2 separate regions of the Homo sapiens genome follow, and region 2 is linked to region 1. Evidence: fine-mapped expression QTL. A gene starts in region 1. The other region holds a variant in brackets. All regions are shown on one strand. Distances are between the middles of the regions.

The links. PIP is the estimated chance that this variant, and not a neighbour inherited with it, causes the effect. A credible set is the group of variants that fine-mapping cannot tell apart.
Region 2: its variant is the best candidate, but not a certain one, in a credible set for the expression of CD1D in whole blood (INTERVAL, PIP 0.57).

What each region holds. Positions count from the first base shown.
Region 1 is chr1:158,177,932-158,183,313 of GRCh38, reverse strand. CD1D (CD1d molecule) reads right to left here and starts at 2,419. Exons shown (of 6, transcript NM_001371762.2): 1 at 2,152-2,419; 2 at 1,593-1,859; 3 at 1,004-1,282; 4 at 158-436. The coding sequence starts at 2,212. RefSeq lists an enhancer at 1,889-1,948 and a silencer at 3,361-3,410.
Region 2 is chr1:158,464,955-158,470,336 of GRCh38, reverse strand. OR10K1 (olfactory receptor family 10 subfamily K member 1) reads right to left here. Exons shown (of 2, transcript NM_001004473.2): 2 at 2,879-4,931. The coding sequence starts at 4,775. The coding sequence ends at 3,834. Among named protein-coding and RNA genes, the nearest start is that of OR10R2, 4.6 kb to the left of the region's middle. The variant A/T (reference allele first, on the strand shown) is at 2,450.

The DNA.
Region 1 (5,382 bases):
CTGTGTCTGGAACCCCTCTCTCTATCCTTTTACTGGGGGCCTCATCTCTGAAACTCCTCTAACCTGGGTATATCAAGCCACATCCCACCCCAGTGCCTCCCTCTATGCCTGAGGACCACCTCCTGCCATTTCCAGCTTGGGCCCAGCTTTTTCTCACCCCAGTAGAGGACGATGTCCTGGCCCTCTAGACTGCTGTGCTTCACCCGACAGGACAGGCCAGCTGCCTCCCCAGCCACCACATCCAGGGTTGCTCGGAGATACCATGTCTCGTCAGCATTGGGCAGGATGTCCCCTGGCTGAGTGCCCTGCTGCTCCTGCTCACCCCGCATCCACTTCACCCATACAGGCTTTGGGTAGAATCCTGAGACATGGCACACCAGCAGCAGACGGCCAGGGCCAGGACTGGGGCCACGGGACAGCCAGGCCTTGGGCTTCACTGTATCCAACAAGGGAATGGGGGGGATCTTAAAGTGAAAACTCTGCATTAGAGGCTCCAGGCCTCATATCATCCTTTTTGACTTTCAGGTCTTTATTTCCCTCCTTCCTGTATGCCCCTGACATGTTCACTTCTGGAAATGAAGTCTCCCACAACTTTCAATCCATTTGTCCCACCTTCTTCAGGGAGCCTGCCCTGATACTCCTTCTTCTTCTCTGGTCCCAGCCTCCTATGAATGCCCCTTGTCTGTTCCCCTATAACACCCTTTGTTTTGAAGTAACATATGTAGCCTATTTCAAGCATTGCATTAATTAACATCCCCCTACCAAGCAGGGATCCTAACTAACTGCCTGACACCTTTCACCCCCAGTTGTTCATTAATTGAATTCATAGAACCCAAGAGGTGCTCAGTTGATGTCTGTGAAATGAATAAATACCCTCACCCCTTATCCAGCCCCTCCTGGGCCTTCCTCTTCTTTGAATGCTCAAAGGGATGAGAACCCTGGAATGGAAAAGCCCGTTTGGAGCCCTGAAGTGGAATGCAGGGAGTAAGGAAGGCAGGCTGACCTTGCTTCTTCAGTTCCGACTTCCCTGACTCAAGGAGGCCACTGACAAATTGGGGGCAGGTGCCATTAAGGAGCCACTGCACTGTTTCCCTCGTCCACTTGTCCTGGTTGAGCACTTGAATGGCCAAGTTTACCCAAAGTGGGGCCTCTTGGGTTGGCTCCCAAGAAGTTCCTTGGAAACTCAGGATATCTTTTCCTTGAAATGCTACATGGAAGAAGTTATTTGAGGCGTTCCCAGGGTGCACCTCACAGCCAGCGGACACCTGGAGCTCCAAGGGATCTGTGGAGAGGAATGGAGAAAGATCAAAGAAGGGTTTAAAAGACTGGGAGAGATGAAAGAGAAGAAATTGATGTGCAGGTTATAATGGGGACCCAGACTTCAGGGAAAGGAAAGTAAGTGACCTGGAGTAGGCAGGAACGAGGGACACTTTGAGGAGTCAAAGCCTGGGACATCTCCAGGTAGAAGGGAAATCAGAAGAGGGTGGACAGAGCAGAGAATCTCATCAGGTGGTGCCACAGTCTCCCAGTTGAGTTTCTGTGGCCATTCTCTCCCCTTGGGTACCGGCCCAGGATCCTATCCCTCAGCTCACAGGATAAGCGTAGCATTTTGGCGAATTCCTTCACGTCCCTGGTGAAGCTGCTTCGATAAACCCGAAATATATGCTGCAGCGTCTCCCACTGCTGGTCGCTGAACGTGCCCTGGGACCAAGGCTTCAGAGAGCGGACGGTGTCCGAGTCGTTGCTCCAGCTGTGCGTCTGCAGCTCCCCCAGCCACGCCAAGCCGTCGGTGCGCGTCCAGCTGCTATTGGCGAAGGACGAGATCTGGAGGCAGCGGAGGGGGAAAAGCCTTTGCGGGACTGGGAGAGAATGAAGATTGGAGGCGTGTAGCAAGTGGCCGGGAGAGCAGCCAGCATAAAGAGAAGGAAGAAAGAAACAAGAGGAGATGAGCTTCAGGAGGCGGCTGATGCCAGCGAACTCTGTGCCGCGCTGCCTCTCCCCGGAGCCAGGGAGCAGCGAGTTTTCTACCTAGATCGCGCCAGTGCGTCCCGGGTCTCACCAGTCCCCATCAGGCGTTGCCCTCCCCGTCCCTACCCAGCTCCCTCTCTCCGCCCTCCCGCGAGTGCACTCAAGCGCCCTCGTTCCACCCACCTTCAGCGCTTCCCCAAGCCTGGAGGAGCGCCCAGAGCAGCAGAAACAGCAGGCACCCCATATCGCCCGGCGTGGGGACCTCGCGGAGCGCCGCTGCGCGCCGCCCTCTGACCTGCGCACTCTTCTCCCCCGCCGCTCAGCTCACGTCCCTTTCCGCTGGGTGCCAGCCAATTCCCAAGCCCAGACCCCGGCAGCCCTCCTCGCTGGGCTTGCCGGCGGTTTGCTGCTTCTGCCGAAGGGCGCCCTCGCCCTTAGCTGTGCGAGCTGCAAAGAGGTCGGGGTCCCAGGAATCCTGGCGCCGCCGCTCACTTCAGTAGGTTTCACAACCGGCGTGTCTCAATTTCCTGTTTCAAAGGAGACTTTGGGTCAACGTGTGGGACGCTTTACAACCATTATTTATGTTTTGGAAGCAGGACATAAGGTTGTGTCTGTGTTACAATTCCAACCATGGTAAAAATGCAAAGGGAAAAAAGGATCAAAGTCCTTGCTTTAGCAGTACATGTCTCTAGGTGGAAAGACTATGAGTGATCTTAATTTGCTTTACATCTTTATGTTTTCCAAAATTTCTCAAGTGCAAGTACCACATTTACAATAAAGTAAACGCATGAAAATTAATTTCCTCAGTTGCACATTGAGAGAACTGGATTAGGTTGGCTACAATTCTTTACAACTGTCATATCCCAGGATTCCTCCACCTCAGTGTTCCCTAGCCTCTCTTTCCTCCTGTCATGGTCCTTGCTCTCCCCTCCCCGGCCTCTGCTCTGTCTTCCCTGTCTCCTTTTTGGGGACGCGCCCCCAGACTCTCTTCCTCCTCTCCGCCCTAGGCTCTGCCGGCATACCTTCTCCTCTGGCTCCTGACTCATTCACTTTCCAAATATGCGCCTCTGTCTTAAACAGTAAGTGTAAGATGACAGTGTGTACCTGGACAGCCAACTCGCCACTTCTCACACTGAAAATAAGAAAAAGTGACCAAAAATCGTGGTTCTAAGCCTTAGCTCACCTGGAGGAAAAGACTCCTCTTTGGCAACTCAGAACCTGGGCTGCAGCCTGACACCTCCCTCTCCCTCACTCTTTTTATCCAATCTATCTCCAACTCATCTCTATTTCACTTCTTTTTGAATACCTCTTGAATAAATTCCTTTTTCTATATTTCCACCGTCACCATCACCCTAACCTTTTGACTGATCTCCTGAAGTAGCATTCTTGGGTAGAAAACAAAATCATTAGCACGGCCTGCAAGATTATGCGCCCTCTAGCCCTGGTGTCTACCTTTTGACATCACCTCACACCCCAGCATCATTTGCTCTGTACTGTAGCCTGGCTGTTAGCTTTCAGTTCCTCCACTATGCAAAACCTCTTCCTGACTAAGGTCTCTGCACAAAGTTCCCTCTACATGAAAGCTCTTGACCTTCTCCTCACCTCACCCCCTCCCAATGCCTAGTTATTTCCACTAAGGTATCAGTTCCAAGGTCACTTTCTCAGGGAAGTCTTTCCAGATCTGCCAGACTGTGTGACCCTAGGCAGGAGAAGTAGGGCAGTCCCAACCTCCACTGCTTGTACACTAACTGGCTTTGAGAAGCCATCCTCTCAGCATGTAGCAGAGTTTATAATTATAGAAATGGCCATATGTCTGTCTCCCTCTGTGTCCTCTTCTAAATCAGCTGGAGAGGTGCCAGAAGGCAAGGATCATGTCTCCATAATCTGATTCCTCCCATTCTGCTAACGTTAATGTTTCCCTTCTCCCATATCCTGTTGCAGCAAGAGTCCTAGAGAAAATAGGCTACTGCACCACACTCTAGGCTGGGATCTTGTAGACAGCCCTAACCCAGCCTATCTAATTATGTGTAATTTGCCCAAAAAAGCTTAAAATAACATAGTAACGTGTTCTTGTAACAAATAAGGTGTTAAATTATTAAATTTGGATACAAAATTGCCTAAATAATGGATAGGAGGGAAGCTATGAGAAATAAAAAGAAAAATAATTATATGACTCATGGGGCAATATTTTTAACTTTACTTTCTTCAAATTTCCAAGCTCCCTTTAAAAACTTGAACAGTTCTGTTTAGTTTTTGTGTATCTTAAAAATTTTAAGTGCTAACATTCTTGCACACTTAAAGACAAGAAGCTGGTTTGTGTGTGTGTGTGTGGTTTTTTTGTTTTTGTTTGTTTATCAACAGAGGCCAGGCTATATTACCTTCAGAAGTTAGGACTATCTGGAATTATACGGATATTTTTTCCCAAAGGTCAGTTGAGTTAGACACTTTTTGGCTATTGGAACTTTCACTGCTTTTTTTCTGGGAAAGGAACCATTGAATTATGAAACGTTTTGCAATATGTTACCTAAACAAAATATTTTATAACAAGACTGACTCAGAATACCCTAGCACAGAGAGATGGTGATTTACTCAGAGCCTTAAAATAAGCCCACGGTGGGTACTACATGATCTCACTTATATGTGGACTCTAAAATAGTTTACTATTTTATGGAAACAGAGTTAGGGTAGTGGTTTCCAGGAGCTGGAGGGAAGGGGCAAATGTGTTAATTTTGGTCAAAGGGTTTCAGCCTCTCAATTTTGAGAGGCTGACCAAAACCTTGGAGCCTGATCATAAGGGACTTACTTGGTTTCAGTTCAGAATTCACAATTCACAACGTCAAATTAGTTGGAATCTTATATGCTTTCTTCATGTTTTTGTTATCCTAACCATAAGGAGACCATTTAATGTACAAAGGATAGCTGCATATGAGAATTTAAGATTCTTGAGAGGACACATCAGGGAAACTTTTATAATAGCTATCAGGAGGATAATACCAACGAACTAAAGAACTCTTCTTAATAGCACTTTCCACAAGCCAACCTGATCAAAATCAAACAATTCAAAGTTCAGTCAATAAAGTTTAACAGCATTCAAGTGCAATTGCTCATAGTCTTTATTCAGAGCATAATGGTGATCAAGGACCGTAGTTTGCTGTAAAATGGCCTGATTTAAAGAGGTATTCATTTTTGTAAGTAGCCTGATAATACAAACCACAGTAACCTGGAGATCCACTAAAAGAAACATAAGGATTAGAAAACCTTGTGATAGCTCTCTTACCTCTCGGACGTCCAGTCCCAGGAGCAAAACTCCAGCGACTTTGGGCCCCGCCCCCGTGAAAGTGGAGGGCGGCCGATGAGGACGGTTCTGAGGGAACTAGACCAATGAGACTAGCCTGGGGCGGGGCGCGGGGCCAG
Region 2 (5,382 bases), 290 kb before region 1:
AAAGTAACAATCAAAAGAATAAAGAGACAGCATATGTAATGAGAGAAAATATTTGCAAACCATATATCTGATAATGGGTTAACATTCACAGCATGTGAAGAACTTTAAAAACTCAATCATAAAATAACAAATAACCCAATTAGAAATGGGCAAAGAATCTGAATAGACATTTCCCAAGACATATAAATGGACAGTAGGTAGCTGAAAAAATGCTCAACCCCACTATTCATCAGAAAATGCATATTAAAACCACAATGAGATATCGCCTCACACCTGTTAGAATGGCTATTATCAAAACGACAAAAGATGTAAAGTGTTAGGGAGGATTTGGAGAAAAGGGAACCCCTACACACTGTTGACAGTTGTAAATTAGTACAGCCATTATGGAACTCAGTAAGGGGTTCCTCAAAAAACTGAAAATATAACTACCATATGATCTTGTAATTCCACTACTTGATGTATATCGATATAAAGTCAGAATGTCAAAGAGATAGCTGCACTCCCATGTTTATGTAGCATTATTCACAATAGTCAAGGTGTGGAATCAACCTAAGTAAGTGTCTATTAACGGACAAATGTATTAGGTTGGTGCAAAAGTTATTGCAGTTTTTGCCATTGAAAGTAATGGCAAAAAAAAATACACAATTACTTTTGCACCAACCTAATATAAGAAAATGTGGTATACATACACAATAAAATATTATTCAGCCATATATAGAAAGAAGTCCTGTTTGCAACAAGATGGATGAACCTGGATGATATTATGCTAAGTGAAATAAGCCAGGAACAGAAAGACAAACACCATGTGATCTCACACATATGTGGAATCTAAAAAAAGTCAAACTCATAAAAGCAGAGAGTAGAATGTTGGTTACCAGAGGCTGAAATTGGTTGAGCAGTTGAGGGGAGAGTTTTGAAAATGTTTATCAAAGGGTACAAAATTTCAGTTAGATAGGAGAAATAATTTTAAAAGCTCTACTGCATATCTTGGTGACTATAGTTAATAATAATGTATTATATACTTGAAAATTGCTAACAGTAGATTGTAAGTGTTCTCACCACAAACAAATAAGTACATGAGCTAAAGGTATATGTTAATTAACTTTAGCCATTCTACAATACATATGTGTATCAAAATATCATGTTTTTTTTGTATTTTTTTAATTTTTTTATTTTATTATTATTATACTTTAAGTTTTAGGGTACATGTGCACAACGTGCAGGTTTGTTACATATGTATACATGTGCCATGTTGGTGTGCTGCACCCATTAACTCGTCATTTAGCATTAGGTATATCTCCTAATGCTATCCCTCCCCCTCCCCCCACCCCACAACAGTCCCCAGTGTATGATGTTCCCCTTTCTGTGTCCATGTGTTCTCATTGTTCAATTCCCACCTATGAGTGAGAACATGCGGTGTTTGGTTTTTTGTCCTTGCGATAGTTTGCTGAGAATGATGGTTTCCAGTTTCATCCATGTCCCTACAAAGGACATGAACTCATTATTTTTATGGCTGCATAGTATTCCATGGTGTATATGTGCCACATTTTCTTAATCTAGTCTATCGTTGTTGGACATTTAGGTTGGTTCCAAGTCTTTGCTATTGTGAATAGTGCTGCTATAAACATACGTGGGCATGTGTCTTTATAGCAGCATGATTTATAATCCTCTGGGTATATACCCAGTAATGGGATGGCTAGGTCAAATGGTATTTCCAGTTATAGATCCCTGAGGAATCGCCACACTGACTTCCACAATGGTTGAACTAGTTTACAGTCCCACCAACAGTGTAAAAGTGTTCCTATTTCTCCACATCTTCTCCCGCACCTGTTGTTTCCTGACTTTTTAATGATCGCCATTCTAACTGGTGTGAGATGGTATCTCATTGTGGTTTTGATTTGCATTTCTCTGATGGCCAGTGATGAGCATTTTTTCATGTGTTTTCTGGCTGCATAAATGTCTTCTTTTGAGAAGTGTCTGTTCATATCCTTTGCCCACTTTTTGATGGGGTTGTTTGTTTTTTTCTTGTAAATTTGTTTGAGTTCATTGTAGATTCTGGATATTAGCCCTTTGTCTGACAAAAACAAGAAATGGGGAAAGGATTCCCTATTTAATAAATGGTGCTGGGAAAACTGGCTAGCCATATGTAGAAAGCTGAAACTGGATCCCTTCCTTACACCTTATACAAAAATTTATTCCAGATGGATAAAAGACTTACATGTTAGACCTAAAACCATAAAAACCCTAGAAGAAAACCTAGGCAGTACCATTCAGGGCATAGGCATGGGCAAGGCCTTCATGTCTAAACACCAAAGGCAATGGCAACAAAAGCCAAAATTGACAAATGGGATCTAATTAAACTAAAGAGCTTCTGCACAGCAAAAGAAAATACCATCAGAGTGAACAGGCAACCTACAGGATGGGAGAAAATATCATGTTTTACACCATA[A/T]ATATATATAATTTTGTCAATTGAAAAGCATTTTTAAAACAGCATTTATACAGGCCTTCTTTGCTTGTCTCCAACTCATCCAGTTCTTGCTTCAGGGGTTTTGTACACATTGTTTCTTCTGTCCTAAAGGATATCCCCTTTACCTGAAGACTTTTAATTACCCTTCAGGTTACATGCAGGTTAACTCTCAGTTTCTCTGGGAAACCAACCCTATGCCATTCGATCTAAATTAGGTTTATCTTAGTATTCTCTCCTCTATCGCCTGCATGCACTTTTTCTTCAGAGAATCAACTTAAACTGGTAAGGTATTTTCCCTCATTTTTCTGTTTACTGGGACTATCTTGAACCAGGCAATAAGGCCTATGAGGGCAGAGACCACATTTATTTTGTTCATCACATTTATTTGTTTTAAAACAAGCAAATAGTTGGTTAGCTTCAGAGTGTACAAAAGGCATATAGAAAATGGAGAATAACAAAATTAGAAATGATAATACTGAAGAGGTAGGTGGAAACTAGATGATAGATTCATGACAATGAAGGACCCTTGGCATTATCTTGTAGGGCAAAGGGAGTCACTGGAGGGTTTTCCATGAGTTTTCTGGTCATTCTAGGAATCTAGCCTTCTATTAATATTAACTCAAGCCCTTTGCTTGGAATTACTTGAGATATTTCAGCAAGTAGGCAATGCTAGTAGCTTCCTTGAAGAGAGCAAATTAGTATGGTGTCTCAGGAACAAATGTGGGGGCTAAGACACACTAGTATGTGAAGGACATACATGTGCATCAGGAAGAGAACCATAAAGTGGTTCCACCTCAAACAAAGGAAGAACAAAACAACCCCAAGTAAAGGCCAAGATATTTCAATATGTAGGTTAAGGAAATGAATTGGGGACAAAAAGGACCACCAAGATTTGTAGCAGAATGTGTGGGACCAAAGTTTTCTGTTGTCTTTAGGAAAAGAAAAGTACGGATAGATGGATTTCCTGCTGTTTTCCTTTTTTTTTTCTTTTTTCTTTCTTTTTTTTTTTTTGGATACATCTTTTCTTTCCTGATGTATCCAAGCTCTCTACTTCAAGACACAGCTCTCATCAGTTTAGATGCATCTTTGCTCTCATATTAGTTTTTAAATTAGCAATATTTAAAGCAGTAAAATATAATTAAATTTGTTATGGAACTGTGTGCTCTGTTCCCATATCTGATTAGTCTTGTTAAAGTATCATGGAGAGTAGAAAGCCAGACTGTCTTAACTTCTGTGAGCCTCATTCTTCTCATATGTAAAATGTTCTTATGTTACAGTGGAGCTGGACAATTAAATGAAAAAAAATGTATAAAACACACGTTCTGCCTGGCATGTACTAGGCATTAGTAGTTTAAAAAATAGCTCTTTAACTAAGAGGATAGAAAGTTTGGCCGATTGTTCTTCGTAGGGCTGATTTGAATTCCTTATTTCTCAGACTATAAATCATTGGATTGAACAATGGGGTAAGGATGGTGTATGACACAGATATTAGGGTGTCTTGGCTTGAAGTGTAATTAGTCTTGGGCCTTAAGTAGATGAAAGAGGCACAACTGTAGTGAACAGTTACCACAATGAGATGGGAGGCACAGGTGGAGAAGGTCTTGTATCTTCCAACGGAGGAAGGGATTTTTAGAATGGCAGAGATGATGCGGATGTAGGAGACTAGGATAAGTAGCAGAGGAATGACCAAGGCAAATACACCAAGCATGAATATGACCAGCTGACTGAAGCCGGAGTGCTGAGATGCCAGTTTAAGGACAGGGGAGATGTCACAGAAGAAGTGATGGAGCTGGTTGGAGGAGTGGAAGGGCAGATGAAATACTAGGGAGGTGGTGACCAGGGAGACAGTGAAGCCACAGGCACAGGCAGCAGCCATTAGTCCCATACACACCCCATGTCCCATGAGCACTGAGTAGCGCAGTGGGTTACAGATGGCCATATAGCGATCATAGCCCATGGCTGCCAGCAGGAAGGAGTGAGAGGAGCCAAAGAAGAGGAAGGAAAACATTTGGATGGCACAGCCCAGGAAAGAAATGGTCTTCTTCTGGGACAGCAGGTCAACCAGCATCTTGGGTACAATGACAAAGGTATAGCAAATCTCAGAGCAAGAAAGGATGGCAAGGAAGAAGTACATGGGAGTATGAAGGGCTCTGTCCAGCACAATGGTGGAAATGATGATTGCATTGGTGCCCAGAGTGAACAGGTAGAGGAGCAGGAAGATAACAAAGAGCAGCTGCTGCAGCCTGGCCAGGGATGAGAAGCCGAGGACGACGAACTCTCTCACCACAGTCTTATTGACTTGCTCCATGGAGAGCACTTCTATAAAGGAGAGTCAGGGACAGAGGTAGAAACCAGGATCCAGAAAGGAGAGTGGAAATGTACGGGAAATTTCACACAAAGTTTGCAGGTGGCAGGCATTTCCAGATATTTGATGGAATTCTTCATTCCCCCATTAAAATGCCTGCTAAAAGAAGAATTAGGCAAAATATGCAAAAGAATAACTGATAGCCAGTTTGGAGGCCTTCTCTAATGTGAAGAACAGGTTATCTCTCTGACCAAGGATTAGGAAATTTGCTAATAGTTTTCCTTCTTATGTAACAGAGAGATTGTTGTTTTTGTCACTTACTATAAACCCAAGGCAACTCACTCTCCAAAGTGGAAAACGTTAACTTCAGCTACCTGAAGCTGATCAGAATATAGAACGAAAGAATGAATAATATTCAGACATAATCATGTGGACTTCAGTTTATCCAACCATGAAATGAGAAAGGAGATAAAGTATTCCATGGTCTCTAAGTAAAGATGTGAGCACACATCTATTTACTGGGAACTTTTTATATCTCCAAGGGAACAATAAGAAATACTATTGGAAGTTCCACAAGTTGAAACATTGAGTCAACAGTGAAACAAAAAAT